Linked DNA regions of Homo sapiens. The protein of the gene in region 2 purifies or fractionates together with the protein of the main gene of each other region. This does not show direct contact. Each region holds a gene or a part of one and is shown on either strand. Other genes may lie near its edges. The genes, in order: XPNPEP3 and DYRK2.

Evidence for each region.
Region 1: the proteins of DYRK2 (region 2) and XPNPEP3 purify together in Homo sapiens (affinity purification with mass spectrometry; 2 studies listed by BioGRID and IntAct, with this or other methods). This does not show direct contact.

The regions. Positions count from the first base shown.
Region 1 is NC_000022.11:40,919,667-40,935,010, reverse strand, and holds the end of XPNPEP3 (xaa-Pro aminopeptidase 3), read right to left. Parts: intron 12,679-15,344; coding exon 12,498-12,678; intron 10,650-12,497; coding exon 10,529-10,649; intron 8,743-10,528; coding exon 8,576-8,742; 3' UTR 2,196-8,575; downstream 1-2,195. UniProt on the Homo sapiens protein: Catalyzes the removal of a penultimate prolyl residue from the N-termini of peptides, such as Leu-Pro-Ala. Also shows low activity towards peptides with Ala or Ser at the P1 position.
Region 2 is NC_000012.12:67,647,562-67,662,905, reverse strand, and holds the start of DYRK2 (dual specificity tyrosine-phosphorylation-regulated kinase 2), read right to left. Parts: upstream 14,162-15,344; 5' UTR 13,773-14,161; coding exon 13,724-13,772; intron 13,110-13,723; coding exon 12,961-13,109; exon of another isoform or gene 12,112-12,960; intron 5,801-12,111; coding exon 4,193-5,800; 3' UTR 1-4,192. UniProt on the Homo sapiens protein: Serine/threonine-protein kinase involved in the regulation of the mitotic cell cycle, cell proliferation, apoptosis, organization of the cytoskeleton and neurite outgrowth. Functions in part via its role in ubiquitin-dependent proteasomal protein degradation.

The DNA.
Region 1 (15,344 bases), on a different chromosome or scaffold from region 2:
CCGCCTGACCCAGCCTCCCAAAGTGCCAGGATTAGAGGTGTGAGCCACCACACCTGGCCTCAATAAAATATTTAATAACATCTTTCAAGATGAGTATTTTTTTAATTGCTAAAATGTGAAATTTTAAAAATTAAAAAAAATTTTTTTTTGAGACAGAGTTTCGCTCTCCCAGACTGGAGTGCAGTGGCTTGATCTCGGCTCACTGCAACTTCCGCCTCTCGAGTTCAAGCAATTCTCCTGCCTCAGCCTCCCGAGTAGTTGGGACTACAGGCTCCCACCACCGTGCCCAGCTAATTTTGTATTTTAGTAGAGACGGAGTTTCACCATGTCGACCAGGCTGGTCTTGAACTCCTGAGCTCAGGCAATCCGCCCGCCTTGGCCTCCAAAAGTCCTAGAATACAGGTGTGAGCCACTGTGCCCGGCCATTTTTTTTTTGTTTAAGTTCCCGGATACATGTACACAACTGTGCAGAATGTGCAGGTTTGTTACATAGGTAAATGTTTGCCATGGCTGTACCTATTAACCCATCACTGAAGTATTAAGCTCTGCATGCATTAGCTGTTTATCCTGATGCTCTCCCTCCCCCTGCCCCTCCAAGATGAATATTTTAATAAAAATGTTTGTTCTAACCTTGTAGGCTTCCCACTTTCGTTTCCTAGGAAAATGTAGTATTTAGTGGCAATCATTCAGAACCAATGGGGTTTAAAAACTGGTGGAAATCTAGATCAATATTACATAGTGACAGATACTTTTTTTTTAGAGACAGGGTCTTGCCCTTGTCACTCAAGTGTAGTGGTATGATAATGGCTTGTTGCAGCTTTGGGCCTTGGACTCCTGGGCTCAAGTGATCCTCCCACCTCAACCTCCTAAGTAGCTGGGGCTACATGCATGCACCATCACACCTAATATAATTTTTTTGTAGAGATGGGGATCTAGCTATGTTGCCCAGGTTGGTCTTGAACTTCTGGCCTCCAGTGATCCTCCCACCTCAGCCTCCAAAAGTGCTAGGATTACATGCATGAGCCACCACATCTGACCAGTCACACAAATTTTTATGTCCAGAGTAATTCTTACCAGTATAATTCTAGATCTTATGACCCTAATTTAAATACCCTAAATGATATTTCAATTAGGGTATTTAAATTAGGGTCATAAGATGTAGAATTATTTTTCAAGAGCTCACTGAAATATGGAGAAGGAGAGGTGTTACCATTTGGTCATCTACTTCAGTGGCAGCTGTTGAGCACAGTGTCACATGAAAGACAAGGATGTCATGGAATTTAGCTAGAGTGGTTGGTGTTTCAGATGTGTAAGGGCTGCTAGCCATAGGTGTCATGGGGGCTCAAGACTGGGCCAGGGCTGCTTCCAGATGCAGCCTCAGACAGCCCAGATCTCTGCTTTACATATGCTGGATACTTACGACTTTTGTGGATGAAGTACTTCTTAGTGGAGTCTGTGAGCAGGGTGACTGTTCTAACAATACATGTATATGCTGCAAATTATAGCTTATTTTGAAATATTTGATATAAAATATTTCAACTGGATTAGAAATCCATTCCCATTATAAGAAATTTCATGTTTGTTGGTCAGCCATGGTGGCTCACTGTACATATTTTTCTTATCATAGTTAAAGGATGTATAATAATTTTTTTTCTACAAGTCATATGTACTTACCACTCAGCCCCCTCAAATTTGTTCCATTGTGCCATACAAAGTATCTTTTTGTGCCTGCCAGAACGTGAGAAATGTTAAAGGTACTCCTCATAGACAGTCTCAGATTTTAAAGATGGTTCCTAACAGGGAGAGAGAGATGGCTACACTTACGATTCATTATATGGTTGACAAAGGTCAAATATTCATAATTTTGCAACTTGATCCTATTTCCCCACAAAATTCATCCTTCATAAAATGTGCATGGCTACAGTTTACAGTCTTGAGTGTTATGGGGACTTTCTGGAGACCTTTCAGTCAGTTTTGTGCCAACCTTTTAATAGGCTGGATCAAATCCACCAGATTCTTCCTCTATAAGACTGATAAAATCATTTCAAGTTTGCTATCATGATTTTGTGACAGCAGCTAATGAATACTTTGTAAATTATTTTGTAAAACCAGATGGTCTCACGTTTATACTGTTTATACTAAATAGACCGTAAACTCTAGATTCTAAAGTAACACACACACACCATACCCCTCTATATTGTTTTATAGTTTTATTTTTTTTAAATGACAGTTACAAGTGCTTTTCCCTTGATGGGCAATGACGTAACTATTTTCAGTTATTAGTAATGCCTTAAAAAGTAACAGCATTTTGTCTAAACTGAACTTATATAATTGCACAAAAGTCATGGAAAGCATTAAGAAATGCTGGTAAAGATTGAAGTTTTCTCAGATTCTTGCGCAATTCCAAGAAGCCTTGATTCCAGTGGGTCCTCTGATTCAAACAATAATGATGCTCAAACTCAGTGACACACAGGTAGAGAACAGCAGCACAACCAGGAGAACCCATGTGGTTTGTAACAGTGAAATTCTGCTCTACTGTTAAGGTTTAATGATGCATTCATTCATCTTTTCATTAGGAGCATAAAAAACACCTCAAATTATATTTTCTCAGGCTTAAAACTTGTTTTGAGCTATGGATTCTACTTCAGGAAACAAAAATTAAAAAAAAAAAAACACAATCACACCATAAAAACCTCTTCTAAGCAGGTTCCTTTATGTTGCTACTGTCTGTGGTGCCTGCCTAATTTTCTAATAGACACACAAACGAATTACATTCTCAGCTATCAGACACTAGTTGAGGGACAGCAGATAGGTTCTAACTCAAATTCTGTTTTATTGGCAGAAGTTATTGGAAACACTGTTACAAAGGACTCCGAGGTCACCGCTGGACTGGTGAACAGCTCACTGTGCTTTCTTCTCCATCTCTGACATGGGAACAGGAGGGGGAGAAGCAGCATTTGTGCTTCACATTTCTGATCTCTGTATTATTAACAAAGCTGAACAGGGTGTGGGTGTGGATATTTGGAAAGACATAACAAAGGTACATTTTTCTGTTTTAATAAGTTGCAATGTCTTTAGATGGAGGTTTAACATGTTTTATTTGTATCTTAATCTCAAGACAGTATTTCTACGGTGAAGGTTTTTCCCTTTCTCACCTTACAAAAACGGAGAAAAAAGCAAGGTTTTGAAGGAAGATGCACACACAGTACTTTAAGTTACTCTCAGAAGCATTTTCCTAACGTGGATACTATGATTATGAGAGGAGGAGAGTTCTCACTCCAGTTTTTCTCTTCTTTTTTATTGAGACAGGGTCTTTCTCTGTTGCCCAGGGTGAAGTGGCACAATCATGGCTCACTGCAGCCTTGACCTCCTAAGCTCAAGCGATCCTCCCACCTCAGCCTCCTGAGTAGCTGGGACTATAGGTGCAAACCACCACACCTGGCTAACTTTAAATTTTTTTGTTGAGACAAGGTCTCTCTATGTTGCCTAGGCTGGTCTCAAACTCCTGGGCTCAAGTGACCATCCCTCCTTGGTCTCCCAAAGTGCTGGGATTATAGCTGTGATCCACTGCACCCAACTTTACTATAGTATTTATACTGTTGTGTTTCAAATAAAGAACACAGTCTGTTTCCTAATTATGGTGACAAAATAGTAATTCCTGAAATAAATACATAAAAGTATGTGACACTGGATATCCAGATATGTTTCCTTCATTTAGGTGGTATTGTTAATGATCTAACCATGTATCTTCAATTCAGGGAGAAAAATTCCAGTAGTAACATTTGAGTAATTTTTTTTAAGTTAAGATTTTTAATAGGAATGCCTGGTATATATATTATTTATTATACTTAGAACTAAAGGCTCGGCTGGGCACGGTGGCTCACACCTGTAATCCCAGCACTTTGGGAGGCCAAAGTGGGCAGATCACGAGGTCAGGAGATCAAGACCATCCTGGCCAACATGGTGAAACCCTGTCTCTACTAAAAATACAAAAATTAGCTGGGCATGGTGGTGCGTGCCTGTAATCCCAGCTACTTGGGAGGCTGAGGCAGGAGAACTGCTTGAACCAGGGAGTTGGAGGTTGCAGTGAGCCAAGATGGCGCCACTACACTCCAGCCTGGCGACAAAGCAAGACTGTCTCTGGCTGGGGGCCGTGGCTCATGCCTGTAATCCCAGCAGTTTGGGAAGCTGAGGTGGGTGGATCACAAGGTCAGGAGATCAAGACCAGCCTGGCCTGGCCAAGATGGTGAAACCCCGTCTCTACTAAAAATACAAAAATTGGGTGTGGTGGCAGGTGCCTGTAATCCCAGTTACTAGGGAGGCTGAGGCAGGAGAATTGGTTGAAGCCGGTGGGTGGAGGTTGCAGTGAGCCAAGATCACACCACTGTACTCCAGCCTGGGTGACAGAGTGAGACTCTATCTCAAAAAAAAAAAAGAACTAAAGGCTCAACACAAATAAATGATAAATGTTCAATGTGATGGATATGCTAATTGTTCTGATCTGATCATTATATATGTATCAAAACATCATTATTTACCCTGTAAATACGTACAATTATATGTCAATTAAAAACTTTAAAAAGGCTGGGTGCAGTGGCTCACGCCTGTAATCCCAGCACTTTGGGAGGCTGAGGTGGGCAGATTATGAGGTCAGGAGATTGAGACCATCCTGGCTAACACAGTAAAACCCCATCTCTACTAAAAATACAATAAACTAGCCGGGCATGGTGGCACGCGCCTGTAGTCCCAGCTACTCAGGAGGCTGAGGCAGAAGAATTGCCTGAACCCGGGAGATGGAGGTTGCAGTGAGCCAAGATCGTGCCACTGCACTCCAGCCTGGGTGACAGAGCGAGACTCCATCTCAAAAAAAAAAAAAACAAAAAAACCCCACAAAAAACCTTTAAAAAAAAAAAAAGCTAATATAAAGCCTTTACCTTAAAACTCTGAATTTATCTTATTCACTTTTTACCCTTAGAAGTTTATGAACTTGCAAAGGCAGTTGAAAACTATGGTAAGTCTTCAAGTCCCAGCTTTATTAAATGTAAGAGACCAGCAAACTTTAACCTAAATTTTAAGAATTTTAAGAAATATTTGGAAAATACTATTAGAAAAATAAAATTATTTGATATCCAGTAACAGTTAATAGCATTCTCTGTATTAAAAAATTACTAAAGGGAAATGGGTATGTCTGCGGCATGGCTGAGAATGAGTAAGATCACACACAGCTTATCTGCTCAACAAATCCTGAATATATCAGACAGCCCATAACATTGCTATGAGAAGTCTGATTCAAATGCTTAGCTGCTATAGTTAGTTAATCTGGGACTCAAAGGACAATATACCTGGGTCAGGGACTGAAAATCACCAGAAGAATTCTACAACAGCCTTTCTGCCTACCAATAACACCTATAGAACTTGACTGGAATCTAACCAGAAGTGTGTTTCATGTCCAAGTATGCTGCTATACATACAAGCTACCTAGGCTTTTAGCTAGAAAAGTTTAGACCATAGAAAATGATACAGGAGGTGCGGTGGCTCACGTCTGTAATCGCAGCACTTAGGGAGGCCGAGGCGGGCAGATCATGAGGTCAGGAGTTCGAGACCAGCCTGGCCAACACAGTGAAACCTCGTCTCTATTTAAAATACAAAAAAATAGCCGGGTGTGGTGGCAGGCGCCTGTATTCCTAGCTATTCGGGAGGCTGAGGCAGGAGAATCGCTTGAACCTGGGAGATGGAGGTTGCAGGGAGCTGAGGTCTCGCTATTGCACACCAGCCCCGGTGACAGTGTGAGACTCCGTCTCAAAAAAAAAAAAAAAAAGAAAAGAAAAGAAAATGATACAAGAAGAAAAGGAAATTCCTTATTCCTGGATTACAAATGAACAAAGGAAACACAATCCAAGGAAAGGGCTGTTGGGGGCACAGAGCCTGGGAAGTGAGCAGCCAGAGCTGTGGAGTTATTTCCCTCCCCTTTTTTTAAAAAGCTCTGGATTGAGAAATTGGAGGGAGGTGGGAAGGTGGGTATGGGGGATGGAGACTCCAGCTGTGCAGCCTCCATTCTGAGAGCTGCTTAGATAAGGTGCGCAAAGCCAGGCATTCCTAGGCTAGCACTGTCAGGATATGATTTGTATCACTTTTGTTTTCACATTATCTGTCTCTTGAGGAAGTCACTGCCTGTCTGCTTTTCACTCTGTACCCTGGGTTTCCCTGATAAGATAGGCAAACTTCCAGCATTACAGAGATTGTTAATCCCCTAGCTTGTGCTTCCCTAATACAAATTGTTTTTTTAAGAAACCCTCAAATTTGTGTTCTAACAATTGGCATGTTTTATACATCTTGACCTCATATCCAGGTTTAAAGGAGGTGAACACACTGGTTCTTAAAGCTTCCCTCTATCACAGACGCTCCTAAATAAGCTATCTGTGGTAATCTAGCCCTGTTCATCTTGCAAACTGAGTTGCTGTATAATTGTATCCAATGTTTGTGTTTAAAAAAATATGACTCTTACACCGGGCGCAGTGGCTCATGCCTGTAATCCTAGCACTTTGGGAGGCTGAGGTGGGCGGATTGCCGGAGCTCAGGAGTTTGAGACCGGCCTGGGCAACAGGGTGAAACCCTGTCTCTACTAAAATACAAAAAATTAGCTGGGCATGGCAGCGTGCACCTGTAGTCCCAGTTACTTGGGAGGCTGAGGCAGGAGAATTGCCTGAACCCAGGTGGTGGAGGTTGTAGTGAGCTGAGATTACGCCACTGCACTCCATCCAGCCCAGGCGACAGAGCGAGACTCTGTCTCCAAAAAAAAAAAAAAAAAAGAAGTATGACTCTTTACCACTGCACTCCCAGTGCTAGTATCAAAGAAAGATAAGAATCATAGGATATTTACGGGTACTTGGTAGATTCCATATTTTGTTTCTATTAGCACTAGAGGAAATCACAGAATGATAACAGGGGTACTTCTCTGAAAACTGGGCGCTACTACTGTGACTCTGACAGGGTACGTAAGTAGAGGATCTGCTCCTGCGCAGCACAACAGCTAAAAGGGTAACCTGTGAGGGTCAGTGCATTAAGAATCTATAGAGGGAGCAGGGATATCTGCGAAAGAAATCTTTCTTTTTTTTTTCTTTTTTTTTTTTTTTTTTGAGACGGAGTCTCGCTCTGTCACCCAGGCTGGAGTGCAGTGGCGCGATCTTGGCTCACTGCAAGCTCTGCCTTCTGGGTTCACGCCATTCTCCTGCCTCAGCCTCCTGAGTAGCTGGGACTACAGGCATCCGCCACCACGCCCAGCTAATTTTTTTTGTATTTTTAGTAAAGACGGGGTTTCACCGTGTTAGCCAGGAGGTCTCAATCTCCTGACCTCGTGATCCGCCCACCTCGGCCTCCCAAAGTGCTGGGATTACAGGCTTGAGCCACCACGCCCGGCCAGAAATCATTTTTTTCTTTTCTTTTTATTAATTTTTGAAGTCATCATTAAGAAATCAACTTTAAATTGAAGAGAAAAGATGGCAGGATGTCAGGATTTTATTTATTTATTTGTTTTTTTGAGGCAGAGTCTTGCTCAGTCACCCAGGCTGGAGTGCAGTCGCATGAGCTCAGCTCACTGCAACCTCCACCTCCCAGGTTCAAGCAATTCTCATGCCTCAGCCTCCCAAGTAGCCAGGATTACAGGCATGTATCATCACACCCAGCTCATTTTTGTATTTTTAGTAGAGACAGTGTTTCACCACGTTGGCCAGGCTGGTCTTGACCTCCTGGTCTCAAGAGATCCACCTGCCTGGACCTCCCAAAGTGCTGGGATTACAGGCGGAACCGCTGTGCCCAGCCCTGATGTCTGGATCTTTAGTATATACATATATAATTTTCTTTCTCTTCCATTTCCATCTTTATCAAGAATCTAAACACTTTCCAGGTCCCAGGCAACCAAATGGCAAGAAAAGCTCAGAAGTGTTTTGTTTGGTAGGTAGCTAGTGTTGCTGGAACCTGGACTGTGGCTGACTAGTAAGACTGCAGGACACCAGTGCCCCTGAGGGCTCATATGGCTCCAGTAGATATGCAGGATCTAGAATAGGTAGGGAGGAGTTACAGAAGGTATGTATTGGCCGCCCACAATCACCGAAAGATGAATTTTTGCATAGGCAGAGACCTTGGTAATTAGCTAAAAATACAGGCATCACACAAACTTCTTATGATATTGGGTTGATCTCAGCAAAAGTATAGAAAGGGAAGGACTTGAAAGAAGAAGTGAATTTTCTATATGTTTAAATGTGTTAACTGGAATGCATGGACATGTGTAACCAAGACCTTTATGTTTAAAAATTAAACTTGCTCTGATCATTAATTCTATAGAATTAATGTTACCAAAGCTGCAGTAACATACTATTCAAAAATTCATTTTCCCAGACTTCTAACTACTTAAAACAAAAAACCCCCCACACACAATTACATACATTCACACAGCTGCTATGCTCCCAAATGGAATGCATATATTAATGCACACACAGAGACACTCAGAAAGCACACGTGCAGGGCTGCCAGAAGACACCCATTTTGAACCTGAGGTGCATGTGGGCCGCAGTGAAGGTCAAGAAGCCTGGCTGCATATCTGTTCAATGTCATTCATCTCTTTGGGACAGTCTGCAGAAAGGATGAGAGGTGAGTCCTGAGTCACCACTACATCATCCTCAATTCGTACACCAAGACCCCGAAACTTCTCTGGGGCATCTTTGTCATCCTCTGGAATATAAATGCCTGTGAAGTAGAAAGAAGAACATGCTGTTCAGGAATGATAGTAACTGGGTGGTTTGGGGCAAGTAAGTTAACCTCTGGGTTAAAATTCCTTCCTCTGTAATACTGGATCTTTATGGTACCTACCTAGTAAAGCTGTGAGGATTAAATGAGATAATACATGTCAAAGTGGCTGGCATATAATGGTCAACACATGTTGGTATCATTACTAAAATTATTATTGTGGTTATCTTTATATTGGACTACAAGCTAAATACAACTACGGCAATGCTGATCATGATTCTGTCATATTCTAGTGGCTCAAGCAGGCCAATAAAGTTACTTAATTTAAAAGTACGTCAATATATGTGGGGGACAAGCAGATTATGTAAGTGCATTCTTCCCCTGCCTAAGAGTCCCTTGGAAAAAGAGCACCTTGCAAAAATAAAGACAAAATATATTTAAACTGTATTCAAAGAAACATTTAGAGATTATTAGCCTTGACAACTGGAAGCTGCAGAGACAGTCATTATAAGATTTAAATATATCTGATGTGTGTAATATAAAATACAAGAGAAACTGAAAGACTTTAATGTACATTTGGAAAAATGTAGGAACCCCAGGTACCCTTTCTAATCATGAAGTTAGACACATACCAGGGCTTTTTATATTAAACAAGTTGTAAACTTCCTCCACTATCCTCACAGATACTGCTCTGCGATTGAAAAAGAAAGATCAGCAAAGGAAAATGTAGCGCAGTCTAAGGAAGCGCCCATGTACCAAACAGATTGAACTAAATGATATATCTATGGCCACAGATAGCAATGTATGACTAGGTTCAAAGGGTGGCATAAAAGACATTTCACAGCCATAATTTATACAGAGATTAAAATACTTGAAATCTAAAATTTAGATCTGTTTTCAAAACAAAACCAGCATCAGTATTTAACCATCAACTCTGACAACATCAATCTTCACACACCATTGTGGTCACTGCTTCTCTTCAGAATCCTGCCCAACACCCAGGACCATTCAAGTTAGGTAACGTATCCGATTGTTAGCTTTCTCTGAAGCTTATGAGGAAGGCGATGGATACTAAGGAGTGGGATGGTGCTGGGTAGCTCAATGCAGCTTGCAGAGGTGTTGAAACTGAGAGCATAGTGTGTCTGCCTGTCTCTCTGCACACAAGCACCGGGGGCTTTGGAAGCTTGAGCAGCCCCCCACTACTAAATGGGAGACCAGTACAAACTGGCCCTGGGAAAGGCAGGATTAAAAAAGATTCATTTCTTAATATCTACTTATAGGAAGTATTCCCCATCTGTTGTTTATTGGAGGAGTCAAACTGAACAAATTGTGTGATATTAAATAAGAATACAAAAGATAAATCGAAAATAAAATTACCTTCCACACTGGACTTTTTTTCCTGTCTCTTCTAACTTAATTACATTGGTTGAGGTAAAAATAAACAATGTGGCTGGGCGCGGTAGCTCACGTATAATCCTAGCACTTTGGGAGACTGAGATAGGTGGATCACCTGAGGTCAGGAGTTCGAGACCAGCCTGGCCAACATGGCGAAACCCCGTCTCTACTAAAAATATAAAAATTAGCCAGGCGTGGTGGCCGACACCTGTAATCCCAGATACTCAGGAGGTTGAGGCAGGAGAATTGCTGAACCTGGGGGGCGGAGGTTGCAGTGAGTGAAGATCACACCACTTCACTCCAGCCTGGGCGAAAGAGCAAAACTCCATCTCAAAAACAAACAAACAAACAAACATTTACCTCATACTACTATTGTAACACCTCTCCTTACCGGGCTCAATTGTGATTACCATCCCAGGCTGCAGAGGGAGGGAACGGGGCATGTCTGGAGTGTCATGGACATCCATCCCGAGGTAGTGGCCAACATGATGAGGACAGTATTTTCGAGCAGCCTGGAAAAGATAATTGTCACAGTATCATTAGAGCAATGACCTCTTACAGGGAATGCTGGGCAAGTATAAATCAGTGAGATATGTGTTATTATCTCCCCCATGGTTCTGCCACTTCAGTTTAATCCCTCCTTGGGCTAATACTTAAAGGCACCTGAAAAACTGCGACCTCTTACATGCAATTCTGCCAATGGCATTCTCATCAATCCACATTTCCATTCCCGCTATTTAATATACTACATACATGCAGACTTGAGTAATTCCAACTAATGACTGTGGCAAATGAAAGTCTCTTTTCTTCAGTACCACAGGAAAGATAAAAATAAAAGAAAGAAAAAAAAATCTCTTTTCTTGGGAAAGAGAGGATGACTATTATCACAGTTCTCTTTCCAATGTTCGTTCACACATCCCTCTCAGGAATCTACTCTGGAGACCCTAAATAGCTCACAGCAACTTGTGGAGAAGGCACACTTTTGGGCACCTACCAGCTTGGGTATTTCTTTCTTTTTTTTTGAGATGGAGTCTTGCTCTGCTGCCCAGGCTGGAGTGCAGTGGTGTGATCTTGGCTCACTGCAAACTCTGTCTCCTGGGTTCAAGCTATTCTCCCACCTCAGCCTCCCAAATAGCCGGGATTATAGTCATGTACCACCATGCCTGGCTAATTTTTGTATTTTTAGTAGAGACAGGGTTTTACCATGTTGGCCAGGTTGGTCTCGAACTCCTGACCTCATGTGATCCGCCTGCCTCAGCCTCCTAAAGTGCTGGGATTACAGGTGTGAGCCACTGTGCCCAGCCAGCTTGGATATTTCCGTCAGTTAGTTAAAGATTTGTTGGCCCAAGCAACAGCCAATTTATAGCTTCATTTTTACTGATAACAGAAGTCCTAGAAGGCTTAACTTGTAGGTAGGAGATGCCTAATGGTCTATCTGACTTAGGCATCTAGTATCTTAATTTTAAAGCTGAGGTTTTACGTTTTTACTGAACACCATCACATTTTGGATGCAGAAAAAAAATTCACTAATGACATGGTCTTTGGGAATATTGCTGAAGTGTCAAAAATGTCACTTAAACAACAAATACCTTCTCCTTTGACCTACAGAATAACCCATAAAAGGATTAAAAGTTAATCTCTCTCTCTTTTTTTTTTTTTTAGACACAGGGCCTTGTTCTGTGGCCCGGGTTGGAGTGCAGTGGTGCGAACATAGCTCACTGCAGCGTTGAACTTCTGGGGTCAAGTGATCCTCCCACCTCAACCTCCCAAGTAGCTGAGACTAGAGGTGTGTGCCACCACACCTGGCTAACTTTTAAATTTTTTGTAGAGATAGGGTCTTGCTATGTTTCCCAGGCTTCTCCTCATTTCTTGTTTCCTTTTTCACCCTGTCGGCACCAGACTTCATTTTAAGTTTTCTGAATACTGAGCTAGTTATGCAGCATGTAATGAATCAGCATGTGCTGCCATCTTCTGGAAGAAATAAGTACTGACTTCCTTTGTTTTAATCCATGTTAAAGCTAAATCCCTTTTATAGATCACAAAGATGATTTCTAAATCTTTTCTTTTTACTTAAAAAACCCTGTGTGTGTATGTATATATATCTACGTATGTGTGTGTATATATATATGTGTGTGTGTGTGTGTGTGTGTGTATATATCTACATGTATATAGATGGGTCTTGCTATGTTGCCCAGGCTGGCTTCAAGCAATCCTCCTGCCTCAGCCTCCTAAACTACTGGGATTACAGGCATGAATCACTACATCTGTCCCATTTCTAAGTCTAATTAGCTTTATATAGGGTAAAAACCTAGCAGCATGCTAGGTGTTCTTGAGAACTGGGGTCAAGAGAAGTGAAGTACCTTGAAGGCATTATTTTCCTTAATGTTCTTCATGATCCCCAAGTCTTTAAGCTTCTGTCCTATCAGGGTCAGCATCATGCTGTAGATGTTCTCCAAGCTTGTCCCAGGGAAGCAGAGGGCCAAACAATCTCTTTGGATCTCTAGAACGGCTTCATAGAGTTCTGCCTGAGGTGCGGTGAACCTGGGGACGGGAAAACCAAAGAACCTGAACTTAGATAATCTGATATTCTAAGAAGTTTGCTACTAAGTTTGATTAGAAAAACCCCAAGATGCTGCTGTTGCTGGGGCACTGTTGATGTTTAATAAGTACCAATCTATCAATATGGCCAGGAGCTCAATCATGTCCTAGGTGCTCAGTAGGAAGGGCAACAATCCTTCAAGCTGGAGCAGCAACACAGTCTCTTCTTCAAATGGTCAGGAGAGACATGAAGTAGGGCCAAAAGAAGCACTGAGCCATGAGTGCAGTCAGTGGGCAGATGAGGCTCAGCCATGATCCTGTTTAATCCCTTACAGCATAGACTACCATTAAAAAAAAAGGCAAGAAAGCCTAGGGACCCACTTCTGACAGGTGAAGCAGATACCATGGGATAAACTAGTCAACATCTGGGCTACTAGTAATGTACTAGCACTTAAGTGTCTTTAGAATAACAGTTTCTTTAGCAATTACGAGATAAAAAAGTGACCTGGGATGATACATGATATGTATTCTCACATACTGTTGATAGGAGTATAAATTAATACAGCCAATTACATCAAAGGCCTTAAAGATGCTCATATAACTAGAGCTTATAATTCTACTCTAATATATCCAAAGAAAATATTTGAAATTCAAAAAAGCTGAATGTACTAAAATGTTCGCTGTAATTTTATAATTGTAAATTATTAGACAAACTCTAAATGTCCCCTAATAGAAGAATGCTTAACTATAATAGCATAAGAAACCCACAGCATAATGTACCCATACCCCAGCCCACCACAGTATTACTAAATAATCATTTTTGTAATAGTTTTTTTTTTTTTTTTTTTTAGAGACAAGGTCTCACTATGTTGCCCAGGTTGGTCTGGAACTCTTCAGCTCAAACGATCCTCCTGCCTTGGCCTCCCAAAGTGTCTTTATATACACTAAAATGCATACATTTGAACGGTACAATTTTGACAAATTCATGTACCAAACCTATTGAAGCTGGGAACAATGAACTCCTAAATTCTGCTGAGTCTTCGTTGCCAGCAGAAGTGGCCCTTCCACCCCCGTCTGAGAAGGTTAACCCTGTTTTGCCTGAAAACTTGTAGGTATGTCCCTTGAGGCAGTTGCCTTGGTTCTACTAGAATTGTAACTACACTCAAGTCCCAGCAGGCTCCAAGTTAGGCAGAAAGCTTGACCCATGAGGAGGTCCACTCCACACCAAAAAGAACTGCATGAGGGGCTGGGCGCGGTGGCTCACGCCTGTAATCCCAACACTTTGGGAGGCCGAGGCGGGTGGATCACCTGAGGTCGGGAGTTCGAGACCAGCCTGACCAACATGGAGAAATCCCATCTCTACTAAAAATACAAAATCAGCTGGGCATGGTGGTGCATGTCTGTAATTCCAGCTACTCGGGAGGCTGAGGCAGAAGAATCGCTTGAAACTGGGAGGCGAAGGTTGTGGTGAGCCGAGATTGCGCCATTGCACTCCAGCCTGGGCAACAAGAGTGAAACTCCGTCTCAAAAAAACAAAACAAAAAAAGAACTGCATGAGGTTTCCAATTTCCGAAAGACAAAAATCTGGGAATGTGGGTGGGAATGAATATTTATGGTGTGGGATAATGGTAGAAGGAACACAGTTGCATCAGGCAACTTTACTGATATGGGTCCACTAATCAGAGACTCTGGATTCAACGTTGCCGCTGAAGGGGTCAGAAAAGTTCTAACAGTTTGTTGCCTAGCTGGCTGAAACACAAACCAAAAGGTAACCCACAATACATAAACACAAATGCCACAACTGCTTTGGTATACTGGAGAAGGAATTCTGCCTCAAGACTATAATATAAACCCTGCCTGAGTTTGGACTGAAGTCTGCCCTATAGATTTTGGACTCAAGCCTTATACAGACCATTTCCATCTCCCCTGAAAGCCTCCTCATGTTCATTTCTTTTTTTCTTTTTTTGAGATGGAGTTTCGCTCTTTCACCCAGGCTGGAGTGAAGTGGTGCGATCTCGGCTCACTGCAACCTCTGCCCCCACCGGGTTCAAGCGATTCTCCTGCCTCGGCCTCCCAAGTAGCTGGGATTATAGGCGCCCACCACCACGCCCAGCTAATTTTTGTATTTTGAGTAGAGATGGGTTTCTGCCATGTTGGCCAGGCTGGTCTTGAACTCCTGACCTCAGGTGATCCACCTACCTTGGCCTCCCAAAGTCCTAGGATTACAGGCATGAGTCACCACGCCTGGCCCACATGTCCATTTCTAATCAATATCCCTACTTTCCGAGGCAAATGCTATTGTGATTATTTTGACCTTAGTTTGCCAAATCTAGAACATCATATAAATGGAATCATATAATATATACTCTTTTGTGTCTGGCTTCCTTCACTGAACATAATCTATGCTCAGTGAGGGTAGAAGGTTGTCTATGCAGTACATCCATGGTGGTGCTTCAATCAGTAACAAAAAACATTCGATCAGTAATTAAAATGTTCTTTTTTATTACTGAGTGGTATTCCATTGTATGAACAGACCACAATTTGCATATTCATTCTCCTGTTGATGGACATTTTGGTTGTTATACTATTGTGAATAAATGCTGTTATGAATGTCCTTGTGCAACCCTTTTTGTTGAGAAATGTTTTCATTTCTCTTAAATACCTAGAAT
Region 2 (15,344 bases):
ATCCTGGGAAAAGCAAGAACTACTTACTAAAACCTTTGTTTTTCCACTTGGAATCTGCATACTTATATTGAACTAATAAAGTATTGCTATGAACAAACTAGTAGAATGAATTATTTTAACTTCTCAAGACCCTGATATAGAGCTATCCATTTTGCATTCTAAACCCTCTCCAGGCTAATTGACAAAGGATAATACCAGAAATAGATCAGGAGTTAAATTATAGTTAGAAAGGGGAGAGAAGTAAGGTAGGACATTAAAATTTTATTCTGAAATTATCTCTGGCCACAACAATAAAATTTAACAGATATTCACTAAACAGTCTTACTCCTGTCATCAGCTGTATAATACATACAGTATCATAGAACTGGCCACTAGGATTAAAATCCACTAGAACATATTTAATGTTAAGTGGCGACAGCAGCATCTCACAGAAATTTTTACATACATATATACACAGTCCACATTCAACCATTTTCACATATTTTCAGTACACACAGTTGCAGCATATTACAGTCACGTGTCTAAGTTGTTGCTCGATAAAAACCCAAGCCACTGCCTAGACAGAACTGTAGCAGTTGAGCTGAGTATAATTACAATTAATTTTATGTATGTCCATAGCAGAGAGATGTACAAGCCCCTAAGAAACAGAGTTCACAAATACTTTTTTTAATGCTATTACAGCATTATGTTGGGCAATATTAAAACCTTTACCGAGACCAGATCAGTTTTTTTAAAAAGTCTTCTGCTTACCAGAAATATTTTTGATGAAAAAAATTACAAAAATGAATGCTCTCCTTAAAATAATTCACACTTTAGGATTCCAATATGGCCCAATGCTACTGATGCCTAAAGTGTTTTCTAACATTCTGATGGAGTCATTTAACACGACCCCAAACCACCCATTAAGTTTAAAAGTGGCTTAAGTGCCTTGCACCCAAATTGTAAAAATCCCTGGCCATCCTTACTAGAGCCAGGCACATATAAAAGGAATGCACTTTGGTTCATACCAAATGCCCTGGGATTAATCACACTATAAAATTAAATGGTTTGAGGTAAATTTTTACAAATACAGTTGATTTTTGTCTAGTGTTAGCATAACAAAAAAAAAATGTAAAAATCAGTCTGATGTTAAGATACAACAAAGACCATCTTTAACCCCTTAAATATAGGAAGTCCTTGTGTAACACTACCTGATGGTTATCTTTTTTCAGTGCCTGAAGATGAGTCATGCCTTATGGTTTCTATTAAGGCCTGTAACTAGATATTTAAGACAGATGTATCTTTGCAGAGATGGGTTCCATTCTTACTGACTAGAATTCGAAGAGTTAAAGAGGCCAAAAAATGCATGCCCTACAACATGGCATTCAGAACAAAAGGCACATTGTTAACACTAAGGGCACAATTTCTCCTCTACCGTTAATCTACAGTGTCTTGCACCACTCTGTTGTTCCACTGCTGTAGCAATATATTTAAGTGGTAATGAACACGCTGGTGGTGCAAGAAACAGAGCCAAATGAGACTGCCAAAGACAAGACAACACTGTGCTATTCCTAGATCTGAAAACAGCTCAGACATCCCCAAACAATGGTAACCTGTGAGACCAAAAACTGTTTCCAAGCCAACTCCTAATAGCCTATCAGAGCCTTCATTAATTTATGTTTTAAAATCACAAAGATGCAACATTTTTCTTTTTTTGACATGACAATCAAACTAGAATTTTATTAAAGCAGCTCTATTACTAAATGCTGAGATGTGGCAGCTCTTGTGAATAAAAAAATTTCACTGTATTTGGAGGGAAAAAAAAAAAAGCCCTACAGTGCTGCACATTATTATAGTTTGGTATAAAAGTTTCCGGTTTCCATTTATAAATAAAGATAGTCTCAAATTCATTGCTGGCATCTTAAGAACCAGTTTTGTGCGGTGGGGGAAAGACAAGCAGTATTAGTCCATTTATAAATGTTCACATGTATCGTCATTTTATAGGGAAATTAATAATGGCAGGCTCAGGTTTGTATATTTAAATGTAAATGTGAAGATAACTGGAAATGGAAGAGGAGCATTAGAAGAGCAAAACAGCATTATATGTTTTTATTGATTTAATGACCTAAAGAAGCTAACCATCATTAAGAGGCTGGTGGTCTTACAAAGCCACCAAACCAAGTCTTATACTTCTCATGCCTTTAAGCCAAAATCTAATATACAGATCTTTAAATTCTATAAGCCATTGATTGGGAGTATTGTCACATGAGCATTATTTAAAATGTAACTTACTAACATATTATTGCACTTCCACAGATTACACAGAAATGTGTATAATATGCTAAAAAATTTGACTAAGGGAAAAGAAGCTATAATTTCTAAACACAGAAGTACAAATTAATTTATCAGTGACACCTTAAATAGTAAAGCAAATATCACTATTTTAATAAGGTAACCTTATTACTGGTTTTTTGGCAAATATCTGAAATATTTCCTGAGCATTTTTTTCCACCATCAACCAACGAAGCCTAAATTAAAGTGTTTTTTTCAAACCTTTTTTTTTTTCTTAAGATAAACTGTAGGATTATTATTAAAGAACTTAACCGGAAACTTTCTTGGCCTCACTGGGGACCACGCTTTTAAGTACTTGTAAATCAATTTACAGGTAATACAATAATCTCTGTGCATATATAAGCTTACTTATCCTAATCTGTACTACCCAAAACCTATTGTCCAAACAGGCAGAAATCTTTCTATATTAAATTGCACATACTAAAAAATTTTTTTCACGTGCCTTGAAATTGATATAGATCATTGCTCATACATTAGTGATAAAATACTGAAATTTTCACTGTGAAAATAATTATTATTCAGAGAAGAAAATATTCTTTTACCAAACTCTCAGTTACTTTGCCAGATAAAGTGTCATTCCCACAAAAACAATCAGTGCAATCCAAAAGAAAGTAAAATAAAATAGAGGAATGCTATCTCTGGGGTTCTTCTAATGATACGAAGAATAAGTCAAACCATTTAACTTGAGGTTGAACTTTTCCTCCTCTAAACGTGTTGTTAACATTGGCCTTACTGAACAGCCAAAGTGACTTCTGTTCGTCCAGAGGATTTTCAACCCTCTTTCTTTTTAAAGAAAGAGTTGATAGTTTCCCAGGCTGAGAGAACCTTACAGTGGCACCTGAAAAGTGTGAACTCACTCTAATCTGCTAAATCTTCTTTGGAACTATGGAAATCCCCACCTTAAGTAGCTAGGCTGCTGTTCTTTTTTTAATTGGAATATGAAACAATGGTCATAATCACAGCTGAAATGTCTCTTTTCTGTATTAACAGTCTGGGATACACAGCTGAAGGAAGAAGACAAACTAAATGCAAGCAACAGACGTGTGGTATTAAAAGAGGAACAGAGAGGAGAAAAGCAGAGAAAAGGGAGGAACAGTTCATGGAATACAATTCTAAATTTAGGTGCAAAAGCAACTCTGTAATATGAGGCTTCTTTACAAAACAGCTCACCGATCATACTAGAAAATTTGGAGGAACACACACGTTTCCATTCCCATTTATCCACTAAAAGCTGCTTTGCCGGCTTTTAGAATGTCAGAATGCTAACTGGGCAGTTTAAACCTTGGGGATCTTATTTTGTATTTGTTTGAGCACTAGAGGAAAATCTCTAAGGTACAGTTTTTCTTAGAATGTCACTTTGATTCTGACCGTTCTCCTCCCACTACCCCCAACACCCAGATTAATTTATGAAAAACGGAAGCAGGACATGCTACACCTGTGCATGGACCTGGAGCATGGAGGGAAAAGGAGGGCCTTAAGGGGCTGTCACCCTGGGGAGGATATAACATGAACCATAAAAACATAGTGAATGTCTTTGACACCAATCTGTAAATGCGTGGCAGTCATGAAGTAATCAGTGGCCTGCCACTGATGTTATTATTCTGCCACACTAAATACAGTAAGGCTCATTGTACTTTTAGAACACAAAAAGTTTCTGAAAGTATAAAAACTTAAAGCATTGTCCTCATGTATTTTATAAAAACAAAATGAACAACTTTCTTACATTAAAATTAAGTGCTGAAAAGATACAAATGAGTAGAGTTATTGAGCAAATAAAAACAGGTCTGAGCTACTCCTTTTCAACCCAGTAAGGCTCAGCAATGTCGTATCTTTCAGGTTACCAGCATCAGGGGACGTGAGCTCAGCTAACAAGTTTTGGCAACACTGTCCTCTGCTGAATATTCCCATTGGCATCTGTCATCTGCGCCAAATTAGTCCTCAGTTTGGAAGCTGAGCTAGAAGGTGGAGGTAACTTGGATATAGATGTGATAGCACCGGTGCTCTCAGTTATCCTTTTCACTGACGTTTTCTCCCCGGTGGGAGGCTTTGGCAACCGCCTCCTCAGCCAGGGGTGCCGCAAAGCCTGGCCTGGGGTCATGCGCACTGCAGGATCCCACTCTAAACACTGTTTTAAGAAGTCAAGGAAAAGGGGATCATCACACCCCTTCAGCGCGTTCCCCCACTCTCTGCTCTCCGGTGGGCCCCTCAGTTTCCCCCTCCGGGAACGGCCTCCGTTTAGGACCACAGAGCCATCTGAGAGAGTCGTGACAGTGCAGTAACGGGGATAACCCTTGGAGCTCACAAAATTTTTGGCTCGTTTGGATGCATCCAGCAGTTTCTGTGAGGGCATGCCCAACAGTTCAATCATACAGGCCAGCTGGTCCCCTTCATCTTCCCCAGGCAAGAGGGGGTAACCCGTCAGGAGCTCTGCTAAAATGCAGCCCAGGCTCCACATATCAATGGGCATGCCATACCTGGCCCCAAGGATCACTTCTGGAGCCCGGTAAAAACGCGACTGGATGTACGTGTAGACACGCTGATGCTCGTAACAACTGGAGCCAAAATCAATTACTTTAATACCGCTTCTACCCTGCTGCTTTAACAAAATGTTCTCGGGCTTAAGGTCACAGTGAATTATTCTGTTTTTGTGCAAAGCATCCAAGCACTGCAGAATCGAGTGGGCAAACTTGCGAACCAAAGGCAGACTGAAGCCCTGGAATTTATTCTTCTTGATGAGCTCATAGAGGTTCATGCTCAGCAGCTCAAACGTCATGCAGATGTGGTTGCGGAAGGTGAAATTCTCCAGCATATGGATGACATTCATTGTGTTATCCTTGTCCTGCTTCCGCAGGTGTTCCAGGATTCGGATCTCCTCCGCTGCTTGCCGGTGGAAGCGCTTCTCATTCCGCACCATCTTTAGGGCCACGTGCTGGTGGACTTTGTGATCGTAGGCCTTGACCACCTGCCCAAAGCTCCCCTTCCCAATGACCTTGAGGACCTCATACCTGTAAGCCACGTGATCGTGGGGCACCTGCACATATGATCCCTGGTCATCATCATAGCCACCATTGTTGGGCCCACCTGTCATGCCCTGGCGCTTCTTAGCATTTAGACCCAAGAAATATATTTCAGGGTAGCTGAAAATCTCATGGTGTTCGAAGGCTGTGAGTTTTTGCATGTATTGCTTCATTGCTTGTTCAGGTGTCATGGGGGTGGCTTTCACCTTCCCCATGCCTTCCATGGACTTTAGAGAGGTGGAGCTCCCCTGCCGTCTATGAATGCTGTCCAGCTGCCGCTCTGGCACCACTGGCAAGCCCGTTTTGCCCACTGTTGTAAGCCCATTTGGTTGTGTCGTGAGCACTGTCCGCTTGTTACTGTTATCCTCAAACAACTGTTGAACCTGGATCTGTCCGTGAGCGTGGCTGCCGACATGCAGGTGATCATTCATTGTGTGCTTACTGCCGCCAATCTGGAATTCAGACAGGAAATATAAATAGAAAAGAAGTGGTGTCTGTTCAAATGGTGTATAAGTAACCCCCAACAACACCACCGCCCCCAACCTCACATTTACAAAATCCCATTTGGTTTGAGTAAAAGCCACAAAACATGTGATCCTGAAAAATGGACCTCATAAATGCCATGCCTAACAGACAAGATGGTTTGCTGTACATATTCAGGGTTCCCCACGGAGACAGAGACCTTAACTTTATCATTCTATATCTAACACTTAGTATAGGGCCTGGCACATCATAGGTGTTCCACTCAATCCACATTTGATACAAAAATGAAACAGGATACAGAAAAAAACATGCACACATAAGACTCTATGTTGGCTCCTCCACCCCCAGATCACAGCACCTTTCATATTTCATCTAGTAGTTTATTAACATGAAGACAGGGACCATGTCTGTCTTGTTCACTACTCTTTCCCTAATACCTAGAGCTCTATCCTGAAAACACTTCATCACCAGTATTTCCCCTTTCCTTGAAAATCTGATGAAACCTAAGTGCACACATGATCCAGTGACAAAAACAAAAACCCTGTGTTTTTAGACTTGAAAGATTCCCATGTAGATGTGTACCATAGTATCTTATGGACCCCTGACCTATTTTTAAAAGTTTCCAGGCTTTACTAACTGTAATAACCATTTAAGGCATTCAGCCCAACAAACCAAGCAACGACCACACTGTTTGGCCTTCCTCCGGAGGGGTCAGTGGCTCAGCTCTCTGAAGATGTCCATTTCTACAAGCTGCTGGGATACTCAGATTTCCAAATAGGAATCCAAAGAAGCAACCTCTGTTTCAGGTATGCATGCCATCCCTGAACATTCCTGTCTAAATTCTATCAATGGTGTGAACCAAGGGACCCCAGCCCTCTACTGAGAATCTTCTTGGGATTTCCTTTAAGCATTATGGCTGCTGAGAGGTAAGGGGTAGGAGAGGACTGGCAGCCAGGATCCTCTCCCAGTTAGGAATTCCTGCCTTGGACAACCCCTAGTCTTAAAGCAGCCTGGCAGGTGATTTCTGTATGAAATCTTACACCACCTTGTCATCACAATCCACCTCATTCAGTCAACTGGTATTAACAGGAGGCTGGCTGCCAAAGTGACAGAGTCCCTGCCCTCCAGGAACTTACAATTAACTAGATGAAGTCCACTGCCATCAGTATTTTTTCTACTATCCCCTTTTAAATCCTACCTTTGGGGCTTTACATACTACTGAAAGAGCAGAAGGGCTCTGTATATGTAACACAGTAATTCAAAACATGATTTGGGAACACCTGGATTACAAAATGAAATTCCAACTCCTTCTTACTAGCAGACCAAGACGTTCACATTTTCTTTATTGGATACATAATATGCACAATGACTATGTGGAGTGTGAGCTTCCTCTCTGCCCACTTCTAACTAAAACAAAACAGAAGACAATACTTGGGGCCTGTCTGACTGTGACTTCATAGGCTCAGGGATATCATTTCTTAGACTTATAACTGAGCTTTTTTATCACACTCATAGATGATACTCCATGCTAGGTGACCTTATATTCAATAAGAGTAGCTAGAAAGGTTATTTTACCCTTGTTCTATGCCAAAAGCAGGGCAGTCCATAAAAATGAATCAGGCAAGTCTTGGGCATATATAAAAGAGGTACAGGCTTGTCCAATGCTTCTCTTCCCCAGCCTCGCTCTCTGCACCCTCTCCTGTCCACTGTGGTCTTTCAAACACCAGACAATAAAGGGGCCTGAATCAAAATATCTCTCTCCTATAGAATCATTTTCTTTAGAGTGGAGTGGTGATATTTCAGCAGAAAAATTCACATTACCTGTATACATGCTATAAAAAGCATAAAGCTCTTCATTAGGACAAAATTAACCTTGGGGCTTTAGAGATTTCTAAAAACACAGCAAAGTAAAACCAAGCCTCAGAAATTTACTTCAAGCAATTTTTGTGTTTCGCATAATTTAATACATGATCACAAATGTTTTAGTAACTAAAACTAACGAGACTGACAAGAAACGACCATCTTCTATATCTCCAACTGCCTTCTCTTGGTCTCCTTTGCAGCATCAACTACTACCTAACCTTAGGTGGATTCAAGAGTTCCCCAGGGTTCAAATCTCGATTCTCTTGGCTTCTTACTCCCATAACCCCCTGCAACTGATCCTGAACACAGCCAGGGCTTCAGCAACTGCCCATGGCCTGATGTTTGCGCATTTGTTCCCTGAGCTCAGACCTTCCAAGGTGCTATCTCCTGAGTGGAAGACACACATATCCAACTATCGATCAGCTCCCTCTCCCATAAGCAACTCAAACTTAACTCATGATTTTTCTAACAAACCAGTTTCCCACTTCCATAATCCTCCATTTTTGATAAAAAGAAGGCTTCCCCTCCATGTGTCACTCAGGCTATCCACCTGCGAATGAATCCTCAGCACTGTGTGCCTGGAAAATCTCAACACCTCCCTCACCTTCCCAAGTCACCAAGAAGATGCATCATTACTATCCCAGGCCCTTTCCATCAACACTGCCTCATCTCACTCTCCTGATGTCTTTCACTGGGACAACTGAGGCAGCATCGTAACATGCCCCCTTGCTTCTAAGTCTAGAATTCCTCAAATCTCTTCTCCATAGTGCTTCTAGAGTCTGATTTAAAAGTCTCAACCTGAGACCACTCTTGCTTTTGCCCAAGGCCTGTGGCTGTAACCTATTTCCATAGCTAATGCAAGAACTTACCAGTAAGAACACAAGGCTCTAAAATGTAGAGGCTAAATGATCGGAGTCCTTCCATTCTCATCAACTACTGTCACTCTTCTCTCCAAGAGAACAAAGCTAGATAGCCCAGGACCCAAAAAACACCACACACTTTTACACTCCTCTGCTTTTAGTGAGGTCAGGTTTCATAATGGTAGATTTTCAGTTAGACACACATTAAATGATCCAGCTCCACCATTTACTAAATGTGTGACCCAGGGCAACTTATTTCATCTCTGTTAACCTCAGTGCCCTTGTCTGCAAAAAGAAGGTAACAAAGTTACCTCATTAGGGCTTTTAGGGGGATTAAATAAGGTAATATGTGTAAAGTGCTTAGTAGTCAGTCAATGAGAGCATTATTATTGTCCTTTCCAGATATTTCTTGTAATCTCCTTTCTCATACCTAGGTGATTCACCCTTTTACTTATTTCTCTTTATTGCAATTGTTTTAACATCAGATGTACTCATCTGGCTGTGAGCAATTCCAGGGCTGGGTCCCCTCTTATGTTTCCAAGTCCTCATTAACATAAACCCAGGCATATAGTAAGCCCTCAATAAATATCTTTGGGATGGAAGAACACATGCCAATAGATCCTCCTTGTTAACTCTTGCCTCTCTTGGAGTTGTTCCTGAGAACTACATTGTGTACCTTCATAAGGAAACATGAAGTCAAGGCCCAGGGAATTAAGAAACGTCCCTGGTGACCTAAGTCACAAGACGTTAGGCTTGCAGTGGATCCGCACAGACTTGGAGGCCAAGGACCTCCAAGCATAAAGTACCTGTAGCAGACACATCAATCAAACCATGTATAAAACACTTGCAACAAACACATCAACCAAACACCTAAAAGCAACACATGCAATCTTAAAAGCTTTCCAGATGTTAGAGATTCATTTGAGAAGCTCTAGCAAAAGAAGACTTTGAATCTCAAACATTGCAGGACTCTAAAATCACAATCAAGCTCAAAAGCACAATTAACTGACTTATAAAAAATGGGGCAGAGAGCAGGGTGGGGGTGCTGAGGGACTAGAAATGCCAGAACATTTCCAGAATACGTATGTCAAGACTACATCATAAACTTAAGGATACTAAAAACCTCTCCCTCCAGCTCAGCCTCTTGAAGTCTGAGATCATGGCTTATTCCGATATGCCAATGTATAGCACAGTGTGTGTCACATTTAAAAATACATACTGAGGCCGGGCACAGGGGCTCAATCCTGTAATCCCAGCACTTTGGGAGGCTGAGGCAGGTGGATCATTTGAGGTCAGGAGTTCATAACCAACCTGGCCAACATGGTGAAACCCCATCTCTACTAAAAATACAAAAATTAGCCAGGCATGGTGGCGGGTGCCTGTAATCCCAGCTACTTGGGTGGCTAAGGCAAGAGAATCGCTTGAACCCCGGAGGCGGAGGTTGCAGTGAGCCGAGATGGAGCCACTGCACTCCAGCCTGGGCAACAGAGTGAGACTCCGTCTCAAAAAAACAAAACAAAACAAAACAAAAAATAAAAACATAATACAATTGTTAAAATAGCTACAATTTATGGGTTCGAATTGAGAGACCTGCAAAGGCTTCTTTGATCATCAAGTACTTTGGTATTAAATATTATATAAAAACAATAGTCTAACCAGTTTGGTAGTTTTCATTTCTTCCAATAAGAAAATGGCAAACAGCAGATATTCCACTGTGATAATAGTCTTGGGCGTTTAAAAACTTTTCTGAAGTCATCTTAGAAATGCTGTATAGTATTATGGTAATAGAATTGAGTCCAAAAAGACTGGAATTTTAGCTCCTCCTCAAACATTCTGACAGTCTGTGTGGCCCTGTCAGAAAGAAAAATGTCTACTTTTTCTTCTTCAAAATACTGCCATTTTTTAAAATGTGTATTTCAATTTGAATTATTTTATAAAGGTAAAACTGATAACTGGAGTGTTTTACATAGTAAAACAGTTACAAAAGTTATACATATTTTAATATTTTTGAATTTAAAAATACTTCTATTAATAACTACCAATTAACATTAATAGAAAAATAATAGGAAGTAAGACAGTGATTGGGCACACTTCTCTCTCTCACACAAACAGAAATAACTAAAGTGTAAAACAACTTATACATGGAGATATAAAACAAAAGGGCAATGGTCTAGATAAATTCCAAAGTTTATAATCTTTATAATCATATATTTAACCTGCCTACTATATCACCTGTAAGAGAAAATGTGGGCAAGCTCCTATGACAAGATCATTTTTATCTCCTTAATGCCCTCCCGCCCCCCATTCATTCTAGAAGTTCTTCCTAGGTGTAATTACTCTGGAAATAATAACTAAAAATTTATAAAAATCTGACAGACATATGGGAATATGGATCTACAAAGGTTCTTGCATTTATAATGAGGCTAGTACAATTTCCTAGAATTAGCAGTCTCCATCAGTATATTAAAACTAGATGCAGGAGGATGTAGGCTTTCACTCTGGCCTTGATATGAACTGGCTGGGGAATCTTGATGAAACCAGTTACCTTGTCTGAGTCTGTTTCCTCATCTATAAATTGAAAGAATAGAACCAGATAAACTCTGTGGTCCTTGTAACCTTTCCTGTACTATGAAATCTGCTATGTTATAGAAATAAAATCAAAACTAAACCACCATCGAAACCCAAATTCACACCTTCAAAGTCAAGCATCTAATAATTAACAGCATACCGAAGTTTACACACACGTTAAAAACAAGTAAATCTGGCATATGCCACAGCAAAATACAGGCCTCCATTATGAGGAGTACTGAGAAGCACATTCGCATCCTTCCTTTTCTGGTGCACCACAGGCTCTCCCTCCAGTGGAGACTTGTCGTTTCATCTACTTTCATTACATGTATTTCAATTGCAAAGAGGCTCTGATCAAGCAAAGCCCATCCTTACAAAATTGGAATCCACATGCAAACCAAATAGTTCTTTTTCCAGCTCACACCATGTCATGTGATTACATCAACACATAGCAAAAAACTGGGTATTATATTTTCCAAATTGTCAGATGATCCCAAACAAAAAAATCCAAACCCCTAAAATCAATGGCAGTCCCTTAAATATCACTGTGACAAGAACACTTAACAGTAATATACAGAATCATCCATCCTACTATACCATCCACAGTCCAACACAGGTTAGTTAACCTCTGTGCAATGAATTCCCAGCCCCTGGGACCAGATGTGTCAGGATAGAGAGACAGACAGAGGGAGGGGGAAGATAGTAACAGCAACAAAACATTTTCCTACGAAACTTGCACACATCTCTCCAAGTCTAACAGGTGCAACTACAGTCTAGACATCCCCTCACAGTTCTCTGACAAACAAGTTTCCCCATAACATATGTCCCCAGAGCTACTCCCCTGTAGACCGGAGATGGCCTTTTCTTCAAGAACTCAACTTTCACTTAGCAAATAAAACCAATCCCTAGCAAGCCTCCCTCACACAGAACCATCTTAGGCTGTTCCTGTGGAAAATCCAATTGGGAAAAAAAGACCTCCAAACCATCACCTCCTCCAAGTGCAGACCTCCTCCAGGCTGGCCATCACCATCCAAGGGTGATCCCTGGGAGCTGAGAAAAGGTACATGCTTTAGTCGAATCCAGCTTGCCAGTCTCCGCAGCCACCAGCAACCAGTCCCACGCTGGCCTCTCCCCTCCCAGAGACCACAGCACCTGTTAGGTGCTTTTTCTTTCCCACCTCCAAAGCAACGCTTGCCCTTTCCTTTTGAATAATGTCCAACTGCAGAATCCTACAGGGGTGGCTTGTTTTGACTGCTGCGGCGGCCCTTATTTTTGTTAATGTTGATTACAATTTCTGCTGTGCTCAAACCTGTAGCACTCATAAAACATGCTTACACACGCGGGGGACAATTGGCGATGCTCCCTGCTGGCTGGAGCCAGGCCTGGGAGGCTCTTTGGGGGATCGATTTTCCGGGCAGGCCGGTCTGGCTGTCCCCTAACACGTATCTGTTTCTATAAATACCCACTACCCACGGGGAGGTGGGGGAAGGACAGAGATGTTTACCGGGTCAGGGAAGGGAACTCTGGGATGCAAGGACGAAAAATGAGGAAAGAAGGAAAGCAGCAAGGAGGAAGTTCCTAGGAAGAGGAGGTCATGGGTGGGCGAGCTCTGGAGGGGAAGTAAGGGGCCCACGCCACGAATCTTCCTTTGTGGCTGCAGCTTTGGGCTCGCCCAACTTAACCAGGGCGGCGTCGACGAGAGACCATCGGCCCGAGGCGTGGGGCTGCTTGTATCTCGACCCCTCTTCTCCCGGCGTCAGACCCCTCCAAGTCCGGGTGCTTCGGCCTGGGGCCCCTCCCGCCCCCACCGCCCGGGCCGCCCGCGGGCTGGGTCTCACCGTGTGGGCTGCGGCGGCAGCGTTGCTGGCCCGGAGAGGCGGCAGGGCGATGGGGGAGGGCGGGCCAGTCCCCACTCCGCTCCGGGTGGCCCCTGCACCGAGCCCCGGGGAAGCCTGAAGCTGACGAACGGCGCTGTCCCCACCTCGGCCTGGAAGCCACGTGCGGGAGGAGACAAAAGAGGGTCAGGGGGGAGAAAGTCACCCAGACCCCCCCTCCAACCCCGCTGGGCAGCGACAACCCTCTTCCAAAGAAAGACGGAGGAAGAGACCGGGGCAGTAAAAACGGGCGTTCGGGTCACGGCTCCCCAGCGCACACCCACGGGCGGGGCGCGGGCAGCTGCAAAGTTAAGTGGGGCCCTGGCGCGCGAGTTCGCGACCCGGCGGGGGAGCCGGGCCGCGCCGGGGCTAGGCGGCCCACGTTGCAGACGGCCAGCAGCCGGGAGGTGGGTTTGGACAGCTGAGCAGGGAGCCACGGCCACGCCAAGCCCCGGGCAGCGCAGGGCGGGGCGGCAGGCCTGGACGGTCCCCGCCCGGGCCCCCGGCAGGCAGAAGCCTCTTCGGGCCGAGGGCTCCCCGCGGAGGGGCCTTCGGGGCCGCGCACAACCCTGCATGGAGCCCGGGGCGCGTCGTCCGCCCGGGGGCTCCCCCGCGCCGCGCCGCCGACTTTGTTCGAGGTCCCGCAGGCAGCGGCCGCCCGCGCCACAGGGGCTGCCCAGGGCCGGCGGGGGTCCGGGGATGCGGCGCGGCGGCACGGCCTCCTTACCGGTCGGGTAGGCGGCGGGAGCGGCGGCCGAAGGTTTCCTGGTTAACATGGCCGCTGGAGAGGAAAATGCATTTCAGGGCTGCCGTCGCCGCCGCCGGTCCTGCTGCTACTTCTGGCGGCCGCCGCCGCCGCCTCCCGGCCGCCCCTCGCGCGGGTCCCCGGCGCCTCGTCGCCGCCTCGCGTCTGCTACAGCCAGACACACACAGTCCACTGCATCCCCTCGGCCGGGGCCCGCCGCCGCGAGCCCCCCGCTCTCCTCCTCGCCGCCGTCCTCCTCTTCCTCGGGCGGCTGCAGCACCCTCCGGCCCGTGCACATGCCTCGCCCTCCCCTGCGCGCCGCGGGCCTCCCCGTCTCCCTCACATAGGGGCGCGGGGAGCTGGAAGCGCTGCGAGGACCGAAGACCGCCTGGCTCGGGAGCCTCTCCCGGGCCCGCGCGCGCGCGCCCCCGCGCACTCACACACAGGCGCCGGCGCGCGGCCCCGCCCCCGCCGCCCTCCGCCGCCCTCCTCCGCCGCCGCAGGCCCCGCCCCCGGCTCCCCCGGCCGCGGCCACGCACACCCCACCCCCACCCAACCTCCCGCCCGGCTCCTCTCAGTCCCCCGGTTTGCGCGCAGCCGCCCCTCCGCTCCCCGGAAAACTCGGCGGCCTCCGCTCGCCCTCCTCCGCCCCCTCCGGCCATCTGCACTGCTTCCCTCGGCTCCACTCCGGCGACCTTTTCCCCTCCCCGGCCCCGCGGCGCCCCTTCTCTGCCCTACAGCTCAACCTACCGCTGCTGCCCTCCGGCCGAAAGCGCCGCAGAGACCCCTCCCCTGCCATGCGCACCCCTAAACATAAATGCATTTTCAGCTCTTCGAACTGAATGGCTGCTCACAGACAGTACTGCTTCCCCGTCCCCCCATTCTTGGTCCCAGCGACTTAGCCACTCCCCTCTCCCCAATTCATCATGTAGATAACTTAGTTGTGCGAGGGTCACCTCGGAGAGGCAAGTCCCGGGAGGGGCGGCCGCTGAGCTCGTTGACCCTGAGCAGGGGCGAAAGAGGGGGCTGCCCTCCCACCTCCACCACACACCCTCCCCGGTTTACTGACACCAAGTGACCGCTCGCCAGTCGCTAGGACAAGGGGAGGCAGAGAGGCGCGTGTGGACGGCAGCTGGGGAAGCAGTTGGCTGTGGGTTGCTAGGCAAAAATAAACATCAGAGACATCTCCTATTTCCTTACAACTCCGAGCCTTTCCCCTGCGCGGCCACTGGGAGAGACACACCTTCCTTTCAGCTCTGCGGTGAGGGAGCGACACCTCGAATTCCTCTCACCCCACCCGACACATCTCTTTCCCCCTTCCCTTCCAAGACACGTGGAGAATTTCCCTGCCTTTTTTATTCGCCATATACAACCTCTCTTTTCCTTGAAGACCAAAAAAAAATTGCTTTCCCGTCTCACATCCGCGCCTCGTCGTGCGTGGCACACAGTGCGCCTCTGTTCAAAGGTCACAGGTTTTGCCACTTCAACTGTGAGAGGAGGTGGGGTGGGAAAGCCCGACAAATCCCGGATGACGGGGCAGAGTTATGCCATGCACTTCCTTCTCGAGAGGTGCCTAGTTTCTGAAGTTCTCTTGGGGCCAGGG